Regions from separate parts of the Homo sapiens genome. Here all the other regions are reported to be linked to region 5. The links are microRNA targets in miRTarBase. Many come from high-throughput screens and were not tested one by one. Region 5 holds a microRNA gene; each other region holds the end of a gene's coding sequence. Distances are between the middles of the regions.

What was found. Region 5 holds the annotated microRNA hsa-miR-1827 (UGAGGCAGUAGAUUGAAU, at 2,727-2,744, shown strand). A microRNA usually pairs through its seed, bases 2 to 8, with sites in the 3' UTR of a target mRNA and lowers its output. Matches are read on the target gene's strand: a 7mer-m8 pairs with bases 2 to 8, a 7mer-A1 pairs with bases 2 to 7 and ends in A, and an 8mer does both.
Region 1: the mRNA of ZNF891 is a reported target of hsa-miR-1827. Seed matches in the 3' UTR shown: 8mer at 1,267-1,274.
Region 2: the mRNA of LMBR1L is a reported target of hsa-miR-1827. Seed matches in the 3' UTR shown: 8mer at 493-500.
Region 3: the mRNA of VCPIP1 is a reported target of hsa-miR-1827. The part of its 3' UTR that is shown has no 7-base or 8-base seed match.
Region 4: the mRNA of ZNF747 is a reported target of hsa-miR-1827. Seed matches in the 3' UTR shown: 8mer at 2,290-2,297, 7mer-m8 at 2,149-2,155 and 7mer-m8 at 1,103-1,109.

What each region holds. Positions count from the first base shown.
Region 1 is chr12:133,117,717-133,120,716 of GRCh38, reverse strand. ZNF891 (zinc finger protein 891) reads left to right here. Exons shown (of 2, transcript NM_001277291.2): 2 at 1-3,000. The coding sequence ends at 433. Among named protein-coding and RNA genes, the nearest start is that of ZNF891, 11 kb to the left of the region's middle.
Region 2 is chr12:49,094,895-49,097,894 of GRCh38, reverse strand. LMBR1L (limb development membrane protein 1 like) reads left to right here. Exons shown (of 17, transcript NM_018113.4): 17 at 156-756. The coding sequence ends at 223. It overlaps DHH-AS1 (DHH antisense RNA 1), which reads right to left. Exons shown (of 4, transcript XR_007063295.1): 4 at 2,151-2,494. Among named protein-coding and RNA genes, the nearest start is that of DHH, 1.6 kb to the right of the region's middle.
Region 3 is chr8:66,631,932-66,634,931 of GRCh38, forward strand. VCPIP1 (valosin containing protein interacting protein 1) reads right to left here. Exons shown (of 3, transcript NM_025054.5): 3 at 1-3,000. The coding sequence ends at 2,570. Among named protein-coding and RNA genes, the nearest start is that of MYBL1, 20 kb to the left of the region's middle.
Region 4 is chr16:30,529,759-30,532,758 of GRCh38, forward strand. ZNF747 (zinc finger protein 747) reads right to left here. Exons shown (of 3, transcript NM_001305018.2): 3 at 609-3,000. The coding sequence ends at 2,741. It also overlaps a transcript of ZNF768 not described here. Among named protein-coding and RNA genes, the nearest start is that of ZNF747, 3.6 kb to the right of the region's middle.
Region 5 is chr12:100,187,206-100,191,580 of GRCh38, forward strand. MIR1827 (microRNA 1827) reads left to right here and starts at 2,679; the gene lies at 2,679-2,744.

The DNA.
Region 1 (3,000 bases), 33 Mb from region 5:
GAAACCTTATGAATGTAATCAGTGTGGAAAATCCTTTGGCACAAGCTCTTACCTTATAGTGCACAAGAGAATACACACTGGAGAAAAACTCTATGAATGCAGTGAGTGTGGAAAAGCCTTCAACACGAGCTCTCACCTTAAAGTTCATAAGAAAATTCATACCGGAGAGAATGTTTATGAATGCAGTGACTGTGGGAAAGTTTTCAGTGGGGTCTCATCCCTTAGAATGCATATAAGAACTCACACTGGAGAGAAACCCTATGAATGTAAGGAATGTAGGAAAGCCTTCAGTGTTTCCTCTTCCCTTAGGAGGCATGTGAGAATTCACACTGGAGAGAAACCCTATGAATGTATTCAATGTGGAAAAGCCTTCAGTCAGAGCTCTTCACTTATTATACACAAGAGAATTCATACTGAGAGAGAAACCCTGTAAGTGTTATGAATGTGGAATTGCTGTTTTCATTGTCTTAAGGTGGATTCCAAGCTCCTTGTCTCAGTCTTTGTTCTCTAAAAGAACGATTTAAGGTTACAAATGGCTCTTTTTTTAATATAACATTTTCTGTAAATACTAATTATGACTTTTTTTGATCCATGGCTGTTTAGAATTAGGTATTTTTAATATGTGAGGTAGGTATATTTTCAGTTATCTTTTTATTGTTGGTTTCTAGGTTAATTCCATTGTGTTCAGAGAATCTGGACTATATTTTACTGCTTTGTTGGTGTTTTTATAAAAGTTGTTTTCTGGCCCAGTGAGACTGGTATTGCTAGCAGCCAACCAAACATTTGAGCTCATCTTTCCTTACTAATGAATTCCATCTTAGCCAAGAACAATAAGGTCTCTGGTTATAGAACGCTTCTTTGACTTCTTGTAGCTAAGGGTAGCCATATCATTCATTCTTGCTGATTCAAAAATAGACATATCACTGGGATCAGAACTATCTATCTTGTCCTCTACTTTTTGCACTTCATCTTTGTCCCTATGAATTGGCCATTCCTGAAGCTGCTGAAAGAGCTATCTTGTGATCATGAAAATGACAGCTGTAGCCAAGGGATGAAGTAGAAGAAAGAGATCCCTGTTCCTCAAAGAAATCTTTAAATAGTTGTACCAGCCCTGCACTACTTGTATCTGGATATGTTCCTACATGAGAAAAATAAGGTTTTTTGTTTGTTTTTTGAGATGGAGTCTCGGTATGTTGCCCAGGCTGGAGTGCAGTGGCACAATCTCAGCTCACTGCAACCTCCACCTCCCAGGTTCAGGTGATTCTCCTGCCTCAGCCTCCTGAGTAGCTGGGATTACAGGCACCACCGCCATGCCTGGCTAATTTTAGTATTTTTAATAGAGACGGGGTTTCACCATGTTGGCCAGGTTGGTCTCAAACTCCTGACCTCAGGTGATCCACCCACCTAGGCGTCCCAAAGTGTTGGCATTACAGGCGTGAGCCACTGTGCCCGGCCAAGAAAAATATGTTAATTGATTTTTTCTTTTTTTTTTTCAATTTTTCAGACAGAGTCTCTGTCTCTCAGGCTAGAATGCAGTGGTGTGGTCATGGCTCATTGCAACCTCGACCTCCTGGGCTCAGGTGATCCACCACAGTCTCCTCAGTAGTTGGGATCACAAATGCATGCCACCATGCCTGGCTAATTTTAAAAATATATATTTTGTAGAGACAGGCTCTTCCTACATTGCTCAGACTGGTCTGAAACTCCTGGGCTCAAGCAGTCCTCCTGCCTTTGCCTCCCAAAGTGCTAGGATTCCAGGCATGAGTTACCATGCCTGGCTCTTACTGATTTTTTTTAAAGCACTACATAAATACAGTCAACGCAGTCACCATATTGTAGAAAAACAGAAGTATATACAGTTAAATGTTTTATGTTGGATGTACACATTTGAAGAGGAACATAGAAAAAAAGTATGGAAAAGGAATGTTGACCGAGCTTTTATGCTTAAGCAGCAGATGAAGATAGAACCAAGATCACTGAAAGCAAGTGTTTAGAACAGCAAAAAGAGTATCCCAACATTTCAGCATTGGAACTACAGAAAGTTTTCAGACAGAGGGGAAGTTACCAATTTTAAATGCTAAGTAAAGCATGAGATTTTGCTGCTTGATCTTGCAGATACTGACCAGATTAGTTCTAACAAAATATGGAAGGAGTGGCATACGGTGGAAGAAAGAAGGCAGTAGCTGCTGTTGTAGTTATTCATGTTAGCCTCAGAGGATGGTGAGACATCCAGATGAAGAGGTTGGTACGCAATTCTAGAATTGAGGAGGTGTCTAGATAGAGATATAAATTGTAGTGACATCAGTAAAGAGACAATAACAGGCTTTGGAAGGTGAGTAAGAATGAAAAGGGAAGGTCTGCCACCTACCCTGAAGACATACATTTAAAGGAACTATAGTAGAGAGATAAGAGGAAAACAAGAAGAGTGGAGTTTCACTGAACCAAGACAAACAAGTTTCAAAAAGGAAGGTGAAGTTGGCCAGGTGTGGTGGTTCACGCCTGTAATCCTGGCACTTTGAGAGGCTGAGGCAGGCGGATCACAAGGTCAGATCGAGACCATCCTGGCCAACATGGTGAAACCCTGGTTCTACTAAAATACAAAAATTAGCCGGGTGTGGTGGCACATGCCTGTAGTCCCAGCTACTCAGGAGCTGAGGCAGAAGAATCACTTGAACCTGGGAGGCAGAGGTTGCAGTGAGATGAGATCTCACCACTGCACTCCAGCCTGGTGACAGAGCAGGACTTCATCTCAAAAAAAAAAAAAAAAAAAGGAAGGTGAAGGTAAATGTTTTTAGTGTTACTTAGGGATCCAATTAGATGAAGTCTAAAAAGGTAAACATATACAGCCAAGTGAAGATCATTTGTGATTGTAGTTGGAAATAACATAGTGGTACATAATGAAGATGGTTGCTAGATTGGGCTGACTTTAGGAATCAATAAAGGGCAAAGAAGTAAAGACTGGATGTAGACAAGTTTGAATAATAGGAGAAAGGGTAGTAG
Region 2 (3,000 bases), 51 Mb from region 5:
ACACTCTGGAACATGGATCACCCCAGCAGGGGAGAGGGTGTGCTTCCTGCTTTGTGGGTAACGTACCTCATCCACACATTCTGTGGCTTGGCTGCCTGGTCCCTAACGGACTGGACCTTTGACTTGCTTTTGACTGCCCATCTCCTCTTCTCCAGGGCTGGACAGACTGCCGCTGCCCGTCTCCGGTTTCCCCCAGGCATCTAGGAAGACCCAGCACCAGTGACCTCCAGCTGGGGGTGGGAAGGAAAAAACTGGACACTGCCATCTGCTGCCTAGGCCTGGAGGGAAGCCCAAGGCTACTTGGACCTCAGGACCTGGAATCTGAGAGGGTGGGTGGCAGAGGGGAGCAGAGCCATCTGCACTATTGCATAATCTGAGCCAGAGTTTGGGACCAGGACCTCCTGCTTTTCCATACTTAACTGTGGCCTCAGCATGGGGTAGGGCTGGGTGACTGGGTCTAGCCCCTGATCCCAAATCTGTTTACACATCAATCTGCCTCACTGCTGTTCTGGGCCATCCCCATAGCCATGTTTACATGATTTGATGTGCAATAGGGTGGGGTAGGGGCAGGGAAAGGACTGGGCCAGGGCAGGCTCGGGAGATAGATTGTCTCCCTTGCCTCTGGCCCAGCAGAGCCTAAGCACTGTGCTATCCTGGAGGGGCTTTGGACCACCTGAAAGACCAAGGGGATAGGGAGGAGGAGGCTTCAGCCATCAGCAATAAAGTTGATCCCAGGGTTTGCTTTGTTTTTTTAAAGCACCTGTCTCTGTGTATATTTGAACAGCCTTGCTCCCACCAGCCCGGCGTCTGCCCAGTAAGAGAAGCAGAGGGGTCCTGCCCACCATCCTTTTCCTTCCCCTTCATCTATATTATTACCATCCTTTGGGGACTTGGATCTGGTGTTAGGCCATGCAGTTGGGCAGTGGGAAACTCCTCCATCCTCAGTCTTGCTTAAAGCTGGCTTGTCCCCTGACTCCTCCTTATATTCATGGCCTTGTTTCTGTACCTTGAGTATTGGGGGTAGGACATGGGCATAGGAGTAGGCTAACCTCCCCGATACACTCATACCTTCAGCCCTATCCTCCCTGGCTTAACTATTGGATATAGAGTAAAATAAGTGGCTGGCTGACAAGGATTTTCATTTCCTACCTGAGAGAAGAATCTAGCTTTTTACTAGAGGCCATCAGTTTCTTGAAAAGCCCATGTGCTATGTTGGGAGTAAGAGCGCAAAACTTAGGCTTATACAGATTGTGTATTGCACAGCTTCCAGGGACACCATTCACCTCATAGTCATTGTGTGGATAGTTACTATGATAGTTTTCTAATAAATGTCAGTCATCTTGAGGAAGGGGTGCTTTTTTTTTCTTTTTTCTTCTTCTTTTTTTTTTTTTTTTTTTTGTGAGACAAGGTCTGGCTCTATCACCCTGGCTGGAGTGCAGTGGTGCAATCTCAGCTCACTGCAACCTCCGCATTCTGGGCTCAAGCCATTCTTCCAGCTCAGGCTCCAGAATAGCTAGGACAACAGACACATGCTACCATGCCTGGCTAATTTTTGTATTTTTAGTAGAGATGGGGTTTTGCCATGTTGCCTGGGCTGGTCTTGAACTCCTGAGCTCAAGTGATCCACCTACCTTGGACTCCCCAAATGATGGAATTACAGGGGTTAGCCACAACACCCAGCCATCTTTTTTTTGGGGGGGGGGGTCCTCACTCTGTCACCCAGGTTAGAGTGCAGTGGCATGATCTTAGCTCACTCTACAGCCTTGAACTCTTGCACCCAAGTGATCCTCCTTCCTCAGCCTCCTGAGTACCTAAGACTACAGGCATGTACCACTACCTCCCACTAATTAATTTTTTTTTTTTGAAACGGGGTGTCACTATGTTGACCAAGTTGGTCTTCAACTCATGGCCTCAAGCAGTCCTTGCCTCGCCCCCAAAGTGTTGGGATTACAGGAGTGAGCCACTGTGCCTGGCCTGGTTTTTTCTGATGTACACAAAGTTGCTATGAGTACTAGCCATAGAGTGTGGTGAGGGGAGGGTGAATATGAAACACAAAGTGTAGATTCCACAAATGCTTGCAAAGCACCCTTCTGTAGAGTAGGCACTTAACCTTGGAGATACATGATAAATATGTGTGTGCTTAAGATTGCTTTGTCTAGTAAGGTGCCAGATAATTCTAATACTGTTCTAACACTGCAGTTAAGTAATGGTTCTCGAGGGAACACAGGTGGGCAGTGTTGGGACATCAAGGAAGGCTTCTTAGAAGAAATGACTTCTAAACAAAAGAAATTGGACGTGGTGCCTCTGAGATGAGATCTGAGTGGCTGAAAATGGAGCCCCGGGAGTCCAGAGAGGGAGAAAGCTGGAGAGGTGCCTAGATGGACGGTTAAGGGAAGTGATCCTCACCTCTTACAAAGACTTTTGAGTGTCCACTGCCCTTCAGCAGCTTCCAACTGAGAAGTCATTCATTTGAAAAACAGCAGCTATTAGATGCCTGGCAAAGAAGAGAAGGGGAAAAAAGTTGGAAGTCCTAAATGAGACAATAAGTACCAAGCTCTGTTCCTGGTTCTGGGGAAGTTCCAAAGGAGACTGCAAAGTTAGTAGAGAAATGGGCCCCTGGTATCCTCACCTCCCAGTCCTGCTTAATGCTGAATGTGAGGAGAGATGGAAGTCGGGGAGATCTGGGGAGGACTACAGAGAAGGGAGGCTCTGGTTGTATGCCCAAAGGGCTTGGCTGGTCTTGGGCAGAAATTGGAACCCATACTTCCTGGATGACAGCGGAGGGCATGGCCTGCCAGGGTAGGCTTTGAGAGAGTAAAAATTCCAATTCAAGTATCAGAGGAGGGTGGTTTGGTTCCAAGTTTAAGCTTGGAGGTAGAAGGATGTTTAGGCAGCCAAGGACTGTAAAGCTACAAGTATTTCCTAGGCAGGTGTCTGCCTGGTTTCCAGGATGGGACACACTTCAGTCGCAAAATGGACCAGCAGTGACCGGCTAGATCC
Region 3 (3,000 bases), not on the chromosome of region 5:
CAACTTAAATTTGGTATGATTAACTATAAAATGGATTACTGAAGAAAAAATTTACAACTTTATTTCAATGTTTAGTGAAGCACTGCAAACAGAATTGCAGGAATGCATTTTAGTTATAATGTTACCTCTAGGGCTAAAAAAAAAAAAAAAAACAAATTTACCTGAGATGTCTAGCTTGCACGCCAAGATGTGGCTATATCACAAATGGCAGTACTAGAAAAATAACCATGCTATAGTCATGTATTTGGTTATGAAAACCATATGGAAAGACAAAGGATGATATTTAAAAACTTAAAAGAAACCCTATTCTAAAACTTCTTTGTGAGGATACCTGGCCTACTTCTCAAAAACCATCAATTCACCCCAACCAAATTTTCAGCTGATTTGAAAGAATTTCAAGAAATTTGATCACTTATCAGAATTGAGCCTTTTATTCATTTATCAAGGGAGAACCCAAACTATTACTGTACTATTCATACCTAACTGGCTTTTAAATAGCATTGCTGTAGCTAGAGAAATTAATAAAGTTGTCAGAGATTAAGTCCATCTTCTAACATTCACATACGCATTCCAATTTGCACTAAATGTAAGAATAGGGAGATAAAGTTTGTTTCTGGTATTTTATGTTAATGCTATGAGATATCTGTCAGTTATCAATGAAGAAAATATTTGTTAAAGAAGATTATATCATTTTACATGAAAGCAGTGCATTTTTTGCTTAAACAGTTTTCCTGTATTTAAATCCCCCCAAAAAAAGTTCCAGTGGCTGAAAAAGCCAAAAATAATTATAGTGGTTAGTGAAGTGATATTTGTAATTCGTAGTTTAATACACAGAAGCCACCTTTACTAAGTAGTAAATAGTATTTGGTAGCTACAGCTCTTATTTTATGCAAAAATAGTGTACAATATAAAAGTTTAAAAATTTCCTGCTGTTTTGATAGGGAGAAAATTTAGGATGAAGATAAAATATAAAGACAAACGTGATAATGTGATAAAAACTAACCCAAATATATATTTTGCTCAGATACACCTGTAAAATGTCTAGATTCTCCATTCTTTCCTTATTTAAAATAGAGTAGTTTGTTTAAGAAGTGGATTCAGTTAGAGATACTTTCACAGAAAGATGACCAAAATCTGCCTTATCTGGAAACACAAGTTAAAGTACTGTCTATATCCCTTATGAATCAACAGGCAGAGATTTTTAAACATCTGATAAAATACTTTCTGACATACATTTTCTTAGAATTACAAACACAGTTCTGCATCTGTTACATGTGCAAACAGAGACAGCCAGGCTTTGAATGCTCTAGGTAAGAGATTGTATTAACATATATTTTGTCTTTCAGCCATTCAAATTCAACTTAATTTCAGTGAACAGAGAAGAATATGGGTTGAAATGTACACTTCAGGATACAGATTTGCAGAATAAAATAAAATAGTGCAATACCAATCTCAGGATAAACACTCTTCTGTTGTTTTTAAGGAATAAGCATGAAAGCTGCTTCTCAAGGAAACTGGCACTGAAGATTTGATGAATACACTAAGCAAATACCCAGCTGATCAGGGTGTGATGCAGTAAAATTTGCATCTAAACCCAAGTGAAGCCAACAAATAAACTCTTATGGATTCTGAAAAAAAAAAAAAAATTTTGGCTCAAAGGGGCATAAATACACTTAGCATATACAGGCTTAAATACCACTGATCAAAATTGTAGAACAATTAACTCATTCATAAAGATAAACTCTTATTTATAAATTCTCTACTGCTACCATTATTTCTTTTTCTACCACACTTTGCAATCAACTTTTCTGCAAGATTAAAAAAAAAAAAATCAGGTTGTTCTTGACCAAGCCAGGAATCAAAAATAATGGTAACATATTAATAGAGCACACACAATTGGCTGTGGCTCAGACAGCAACACAACTGAATCACATTGACCTCATCAATCTAGAAGAAATTTTTCCCCAATCTTGCACAAATCAGCAAAATGTTATATCGTTACATTCTATTCTCAAGATATTTTCGCCAAGAAATCTCTATGAATGTGTTTACGTTCATAGAAACATTTGCATTCCACTGTCTAATAAATAATTGTATGAATTTTAAGATACAATTTAGTTCAGATAAAATTCAAGTTTACATAAACCTTTTGACACTAGTATATGAGATGGTTACCTTGATGACATCAACATTAGCACAATCTCATTTCCCCTCCATTTGTAGGCTTTTCAGAAATCAAACGTATTTAAGTAAGAGAATTTTCATGTTGGAAACATTAAGACTTTCATGGAATTAAAATTACAAAGAACTTCCAATGAACCACATATATGGAAGAAAGTCATCTCAGCAGATCTAACAGCTAATTTATAGAAATTCAGAGCCAGCCTGGGCAGCAGTATATTAAAAGCTATGGCCAATCACACACTTGCTATCATGCACTGAATAACAAGATATAATCTTTGAATTATATACGTACAAGATTTTTAATGACTAATCAAGTTACGTGGCCCAGCCAACAAATATTACATATTCACAATAAACATTCTGCCTTTATTAGCCTCTAATTAAATCAAGAGTGATCCATTGGCTCAGTTGTGTTAGTCATCTCAGCATCTTGACTATCCATCTCTTCAAGCTCCTCCACGGAATTTCCCCTTTGTGCTTTTGACCTTGTGGCAAAGGCTGCTCCCAGTGCATCTGCTACACAGCCATCAGTTGTTTCTGTATTCAAATTTTCAGTACCACCAGTTAAAGGAAAAGATTCAGGCAAACCAGTCTGAAGACTCCCAGACTTTGCAGAAGAACTCACAACTTCTGTTTTCCTTTGAGGAAGATCAGATGGTGACTGCTCTGTACTTTGATCCCGAAGGTGCCTGTCCATTGAAGCCTGAATAGAAGAAACCATTTCCTGCAATTTTTTTCGCTGGGCCTCAACCAAATCAGGATCAAGCTGCCTGCCGTCTCTCATTGTTACTACTCCAGGAGCTATTCGAATAAGCT
Region 4 (3,000 bases), not on the chromosome of region 5:
TAAAATTCTATCCCTGGAGATTCTGATTCAATAGATGAGGAACTGGGCCCAGGGAGTAGCTAGTTTTTTTTTTTTTTTTTTTTGAGACAGAGTCTCGCTCTGTCACCCAGGCTGGAGTGCAGTGGTGCTATCTCTGCTCAGTGCAACCTCTGCCTCCTGAGTTCAAGCGATTCTCCTGCCTCACCCTCCTGAGTAGCTGGGACTATAGGCACGTGCCACCATGTCAGGCTAATTTTTTTAAAATGTATCCTTAGTAGAGACGGGGTTTCACCATGTTAGCCAGGATGGTCTCGGTCTCCTGACCTTGCGATCCGCCCGCCTCAGCCTCCCAAAATGCTGGGATTACAGGTGTGAGCCACCACGCCCGGCCGAGAATAGCTACATTTTTAAAAGATACTTAGCCTGGCCCTACCTCTAGGTGGAAATATCTGTGCCACCAACTGAGGAGCTGAGAATGGGGTGGGGCTAAGGCTTAAGGGTTTCACGACACTAAAAAAAATTGACGAAATGCTGGAAGGTTGGGTCATGAGGGCAGGAAGCAGAGGAGTTGGAGCCTGGTTTCTGGGCCATAAGTAAACTTTACAAACTTCAAAGCTCTCAGAGACCTCTAGGTAATAATCACGGCATCTTTAATTGGCAAACTCAGGGCCAAGATCTATCTGGCTGTCAGTCTGGGCTGAGAACTGGTGTTGCAAGCTGGGCTTTCCCCAGGCTGTGTTGAGGGTTAGGGGAGGGGACTGAGATGTACACTGGAAATTAAAACCTGGTACAAAGGTATCTCCTACTGCCAAGGTTCCTCTTCTCACCCCATGTGCCCCTGTGATAAAGTGACACACGAGTCAACCCGCCCCAGAAAAGCTGAGGGAGAGAGAGACCACGGTGGGATTGGATTGGAGATGAGGTTCGAATAAAGTCAGTTCATTACTTGACACCCGAACAGTGTCTTTTCTCCAAAACTTCTACCTCCTTTCAGGCTGATAAATCTGGTTCCTTCCTCCCTGGGTAGGCCAGACACAGGGCTGAGCTGGGTGACAGGTGAGGGCGCACAGGCCAGCAGAGGTCACAGGCCCTTGCTCTCCTTGGGCAGGTGTTGTCCTGACCAGAGGCAGGGCAGGGGCTGCCCGTGGCTGGACTCTGCCCACAAAGGAATTAGTGGTAGCTGGATAATGGAGTCGTGAAGTGCTGGAGGGATTCCGTGTAGAACTTGGGGATACAGATGGGTACGGTTGCCACTGGCTACAAATCTAACACCAGGTGTTCCTGGCCTAGCCCCCTCTGCCCATGATGGCACATACTTAAAGACAGCAAAGATGGTGCGTACCTAAAGACAGGAAAGATGCAAGGACTGTTTTGACACAGACATGGGTTCAAGAAATACTTCCCTTTCTTCTTTGCTGTACTTTAAGATAAACACCAAAAACACTAAAAGCAAGCCATGATGAATGGCTACTCATGCTTGGTCAGGAGCTGATGGGATGAGTGGCCGGACCACAGTAAGTTGGGAGTTCTGGCTCCGGCCCAACTCCCAACAACTGCGACTTTCTGAGAGCCTAGGTGAACTTGCGAAATCTTTGGATTTTTCAAGAGATGCCAGAAACCTGGATTTTGGTGCAAAATATCCCTTTAGATCTTCATCACTAATTCTTATCACTTAAAAACACTGCCTGGGCCCAAATCAATACAGCAACTGCAGGCGAGATCCAATACAGGGTCACTGGTTTTTTAGGTTGTGCAGCAAAAAGACAATGAAGGCCAGTGCAGTGGCTCCCCTGTAATCCCAGCACTTTGGGAGGCCAAGGTGGGCGAATTGCTTGAACCGAGGAGTTTGAGACCAGCCTGATCAACATAGTGGGAACCCCATCTCTGCAAAAAAATTTAAAAATTAGCCAGGCATAGTGTTGCCCACCTGTAGTCACAGCCATCTGAGAGGCTGGGGCAGGAGGATTCCTTGAGCCCAGCAGGTCTAGGCTGCAGTGAGCCCAGTTCACACCACTGCATTCCAGCCTGGGTGAGGAGCAAGATGCTGTCTTAATAAGTAAATAAATAAACAAAAAAAACAGACAATGGGTATTGTCTTGTGGGAAGGTCAAAGAATAAAAAAGAAAAGGCCAGGTGAGGTGGCTCACGCCTGTAATCCCAGCACTTTGGGAGGCAGAGGTGGGTGGATCACCTGAGGGCAGGAGTTCGAGACCAGCCTAGCCAACATGGTGAAACCCCATCTCTACTAAAAATACAAAAAGTTAGCCGGGCATAGTGGCAGGTGCCTGTAATTCCAGCTACTTGGGTGGCTGAGGCAGGAGAATCGCTTGACTCCAGGAGGTGGAAGTTGCAGTGAGTCGAGATCGCACCATTGCACTCCAGCCTGGGCAACAAGAGCAAAACTCCGTCTCAAAAAATTAAAAAAGTAAAAAGAAAAAGACAACAGAGAAAACAAGGTTCTTCTCTACCTCAATCCTCTTAGCATCTCTGGGAGGAGAAACAGCTTTTGCTTCCCTGTATGGAGGTCTGGGGGGTTCTCACCTCAGCCCTGCCTCAGCAAAGGGGGCCTTGGAGAGCCCAGGGCAGCGGGGAGCAAGGTGCTGGCAGAAGAGGCTGCTGAGAGCCCAAGATCAGACTGTCCGCACCCCAGGCCAGCTCTTGCGGTGGATTCTGGGACCTCCCTGCAGGCCGCTGCAGAGGTTCGGGCCCCTGAGCCCATCTCGGGCCGCCCACAATGTCTAGATGGTCACTTTTTAGGCCGTCACCCACATTCCTGGAATATCTCTGGATACAGCTGGAAGCCCACAGGCGGGTCCAGGTCCCCGCGGACAGGAGTCAGGGTCACAGACAGCCCCCCAGGGCGCCGGCCCCTACGCCCCTCGCCCCCGGGCCGATGGACCCATTGGTGCTTGGCCATGCCGGTCTTCAGGCCGAAGCAGCGGCCACACTGCGGGCAGCGGTAGGGCTTCTCGCCAGTGTGAACGCGCAGGTGAGAAGTCAGCGCCGTGCGGCGCATGAAGG
Region 5 (4,375 bases):
AATGTAATTGTCACTGTGATAGTATTAAGAGGTGGAACCATTAAGAGGTGATTAGGCCATGAAGGCTCAGTCCTCACGAATGGATTAACGCTGTTATCTCAGGAGTGGGCCTAGATTCAACTGCAGAAGAGGAGATGGCAATGTGGCCAGGGAAGCAGAGATTACAGCAAGCCAGCCATAGACCAAGCAATGCCAGCAGCCACCAGAAGCTGGAAGAGGCCCGGAACCGACTTTGCCCTGGAGCCTCCAAAGAAACCAGTCCTGTCGACACCTGAACTTAGGCCTAGTGAAGCTGATTTTGAACTTCTGGCCTCCCAAACTATCAGAGAATTAATATGTGTTGTTTTAAAACATCAAGTTTATGGTAACTTGTTACAGCAGCCAGAGCAAATTAATACAATCACTCTCTAAAAAGCTATTGCCCTTCAAACCAAGGACTTTGAGAGGCTGCTTTCTGCTGTGGTCCAGGCTTCAGCTGGCATTCAAGTTTGGAGCATTAATGTCCAAAGTTAGAATATATTTACTTCTGATATGATGTCTTTTGATCCTGAGGATCTGGGAGGGTGTCATCAGAAAGACCCTTTCCAAAATACTCTAGACATTTACCTGGACAGATGAGTACATCATCCTTCCAATTCTAACACATTAGAGCAAACACCTAATAAAACGTGCACAGCCTCAAATAAACCAAACATCTAAGAAACAATACTCTTGTTGTAGAACTTTCAGACAGGTACAGCTCCACTGGTTCCCTACTGCCCAAAGGGCAGACACCCCCACCCCTTCACCCTGGGCTCCCTGGCCTCCTCAGCTCCTCTTCTATCCTCACCCCCTTAAGCACCCTATGCACCTGGCATGAGAACCCATGCCACTTGTGAGACACACCCTGTTCTGACTTCCTTGCCTCTGCATGGGTGTCCTTGAACTTACATTTCCCTTTGGCCAGTCCCTCTCCATCGCTCAAGCCCTTTAAGTCAAAACTCGTCTTCAGAGCAAAACCATCACTAGCCTCTCCCAAAACCCACACCGCAAAGAATAAGCCATTTCTTCCTGGTGCACCCAGGGAGGCTGTGACATGCTGGGTTCAGCCTTGAACTGCACCCTACGGCACCTGTGGCAGAGGACTCACAGGCCTTGCCTGCCTGTCTTCCTGAGAACCCTTCAAACTGCTGAAGGCAGGGAGGGACAGCCTCTTACCCAAGGGAACAACCTCAGCCCCATCCCACAGTGAGGGGGAGAGGAAAATGCAGCAGGGAGGGAGGGAGCACCAGCTGCACAGCCAGGCAGTCCTGCAGAATGGGCTTCTCTAAACTTGAGTGGTGACCCACTGTGGGCCAGGATATCAAATTAAGAAGATAAGAAGTCAATTTTGAGGGGACAAGCATTTTTTTTAGTATTAAAAGAGAAAATAGTACTTAGCTTTACTATATGTAGCAGTGACATTTTTCTTTCAGTTTTATGTACATACTGACAGTATACATTTACATACAAAGGTGTATTATCTGCTGTCGGTTCCCAGTCAAAAAAGTGAACAACACTGTGTCCGAAGGTAACATCCTTCCCAGTGTCCAGAATTGGTTCCTTCTGGTGGGTTCTTAGTCTCGCCAACTTCAAGAATGAAGCTGCAGACCTTTGCGGTGAGTGTTGCAGCTCTTAAAGGTGGCACGGACCCAAAGAGTGAGCAGCAGTAAGATTTATGATGAAGAGCGAAAGAACAAAGGTTCCACAGCATGGAAGGGGACCCGAGCAGGTTGCCGCTGCTGGGTGGGGTGGCCAGCTTTTATTCCCTCATTTGTCCCTGCCCACATCCTGCTCATTGGTCCATTTTACAGAGCGCTGATTGGTCCATTTTACAGAGTGCTGATTGATCCATTTTACAGAGTACTGATTGGTGTGTTTACAATCCTTTAGCTGGACACAGAGCACTGATTGGTGCGTTTTTACAGAGTGCTGATTGGTGCATTTACAATCCTTTAGCTAGACACAGCGCTGACTGGTGTGTTTACAATCCTCTAGCTAGACAGAAAAGTTCTCCAAGTCCCCACTCGACCCAGGAAGTCCAGCTGGCTTCACCTCCCACCAGGAGGCCAAACAAAAAGGACAGTGCTGAGAGGAACCATCGTCCTGCTAGGGAAGGGAGTGTGGCACAAAGGCAGGTGGGTGTGGGCAGACCCCCCCTGCCACGGGTGTGCAGGGCAGAGGATGATGAGCCCCAAGCAGCAGGAGCAGGAGCAGTAGAGCAACTCTGCCCCTGAAAGGGTCTGGAGCCTTCCCTCATCACTCTTCCTCAAGTCGATGCTGGACACCCACTATGTACCAGGCCGTGTGAGGCACTGGGGTAAACCAGAGACAAGACAGACAGGGTCCCTGCCCCATGGAGCTCCCAGCCTTGCAAGGGAGCTAGACCACAGATGAGTACACAAAGAAATACAGTAACTACAGGCAGTGGTAAGGGCTGTGAAGGAGAAGCACGGCAGTGAGGAATGGGAGGAACAGGGAAGGCTTCTCTGAAGAACGAACAGAAGTAACCAGAGAAGAGACAGCCCGCCCTGCAAAGGGACAGCCTGAGGCAGGGCCTGTCGGGAAGACAATACATCTGAAGAACTGCAAGAAGTCAAGTGGGCCTGCAACAGAGGAAATGACAGGAGTCAGACCCCATGGGACCCTGAAGGCCATGTTCAGCAGCACAGCCTTCAGCCTAAAGCAATGAGAAGCCTCTGAAAGGCTGAGGCAGTAGATTGAATTGATTCAGGTCCCTTAGAATTGGGTCCCTGCAACAGGTGGACCCAGGACCGGCAGAGAATGCAGATAGGCGCCCCTCCTCAGCCCCCAACTCTAAATATAACAGAAGACATGGCTCAGTTGCTCCCTTGGTGGCCCTGGACAAGACAGGCTGAAGTTCTCTGAGCCTCCGCTTCCCATGCTGAGTCATGGTGAAAGGTCTCTGAGTCTACAGGCCAAAGCCACTGCTCCTCTCATGACTGCAGTGATTTCCATGGACAGTGTTATGCAACGGCGGCCCTTCTGATACGTGGGGCCCTGGGAGCGTGTGAACTGATCGAGACCAAGAGGACTGATGGGACACAACTGCTAAGCACAACCTCATGCTCCTGGGAGCTATCAAAGAAGACCAGGCACCAATGCAGCAACACACACACACAGCCCAGCCAACTTCCCGCAACTGCTGAAACTCCACGGGCCCAAAAGCAAGTCGCCTTCCTTCCTGCTTCCTTCTCTAGAAGGTCTGGCTTTAAAAATGTCACTGTGAGGCAGCAGCATGGTGACTACATGCCTTGTCTTTCTTGGCAGACAGAGCCATGCCTTCCAACGAGGAAAATTACAAATACCACGTTATGGCTCCTGGACAGGAACAACTTCTCCCAATTCACCAAACATCTGTGTGCCTGCTTTGAGCTGGTTTGCGCCCTCTGCTGCAAACAGGGGCTGAAGAGACGAGTCACTGTCACGACTTTAGAGTCCTAGACACTAAAACCATAATAGATTCTTGGGAACCCCCGCCGTGCTCACAGATAACTCTTTCTACCAGGCCTGAGTGGGTCAAGAATGAAGCAAAAACTAAGAGTCAGAGCAGGGCCAACTGCAGGGCCCGCAGAAGACCTGTGGGAGGGAGGCCTGGAAGGAAGAGCACACCTTCCCGGCCAGCTCAGCCCTCACAACTGCCCTTGAGAAAGGCACCCTGTCCACTCCACCCAAGGGAGTGGAGACACACTTCACCTACTGGCTCAAAAGAGTCAGAGGGGCAACAGTGGCAGCAATGCCAGCAGGCCTGGGGTGTGTAGCCACCATTTACAGAGCACTTACAATCAGTCAGGCAGTGTGCTAGGCATTTCTTATTTGTAACCTTAACAACACTCTCACTGATCCAGAGAGGGAGAGGTTTACACACACACACACACACACACACACACACACACACACACACACTCCAAGAGGATATGAGGGCTTAAAGCTTGGGTTAGGCAATAAGCATCTGGCATCCTCTAAGCATGAAAGGCACAGTAGTGAACTATACTGACAAAATCTCCTCCTAGGAGGTGATGCTCTAGTAGGACACAACAGCAGATGCTCAAAGACTAGATCAGGGAGCAAAACCATCCTGAATCTCTAGCCGACTGAGGGCCCCCTGTGCTGGCTGGTGAGCTACTGCCTACTGGACAATCATGAAAGCCACAGTCTCCCTAGGGATCCTCTCAGCTCCTTGCCCCTCAGATGGTCTCACACAACCGAGTGCTCAGGATGTTTACTGAACTGAGCACTTTAGGCAGAGTATTTCACAGAACACTAGTTAGAAGCCACTAATTAGTCACGACTACCTAGTTTACCATTTCCACAATACATTCATTCTGTGAAAGTA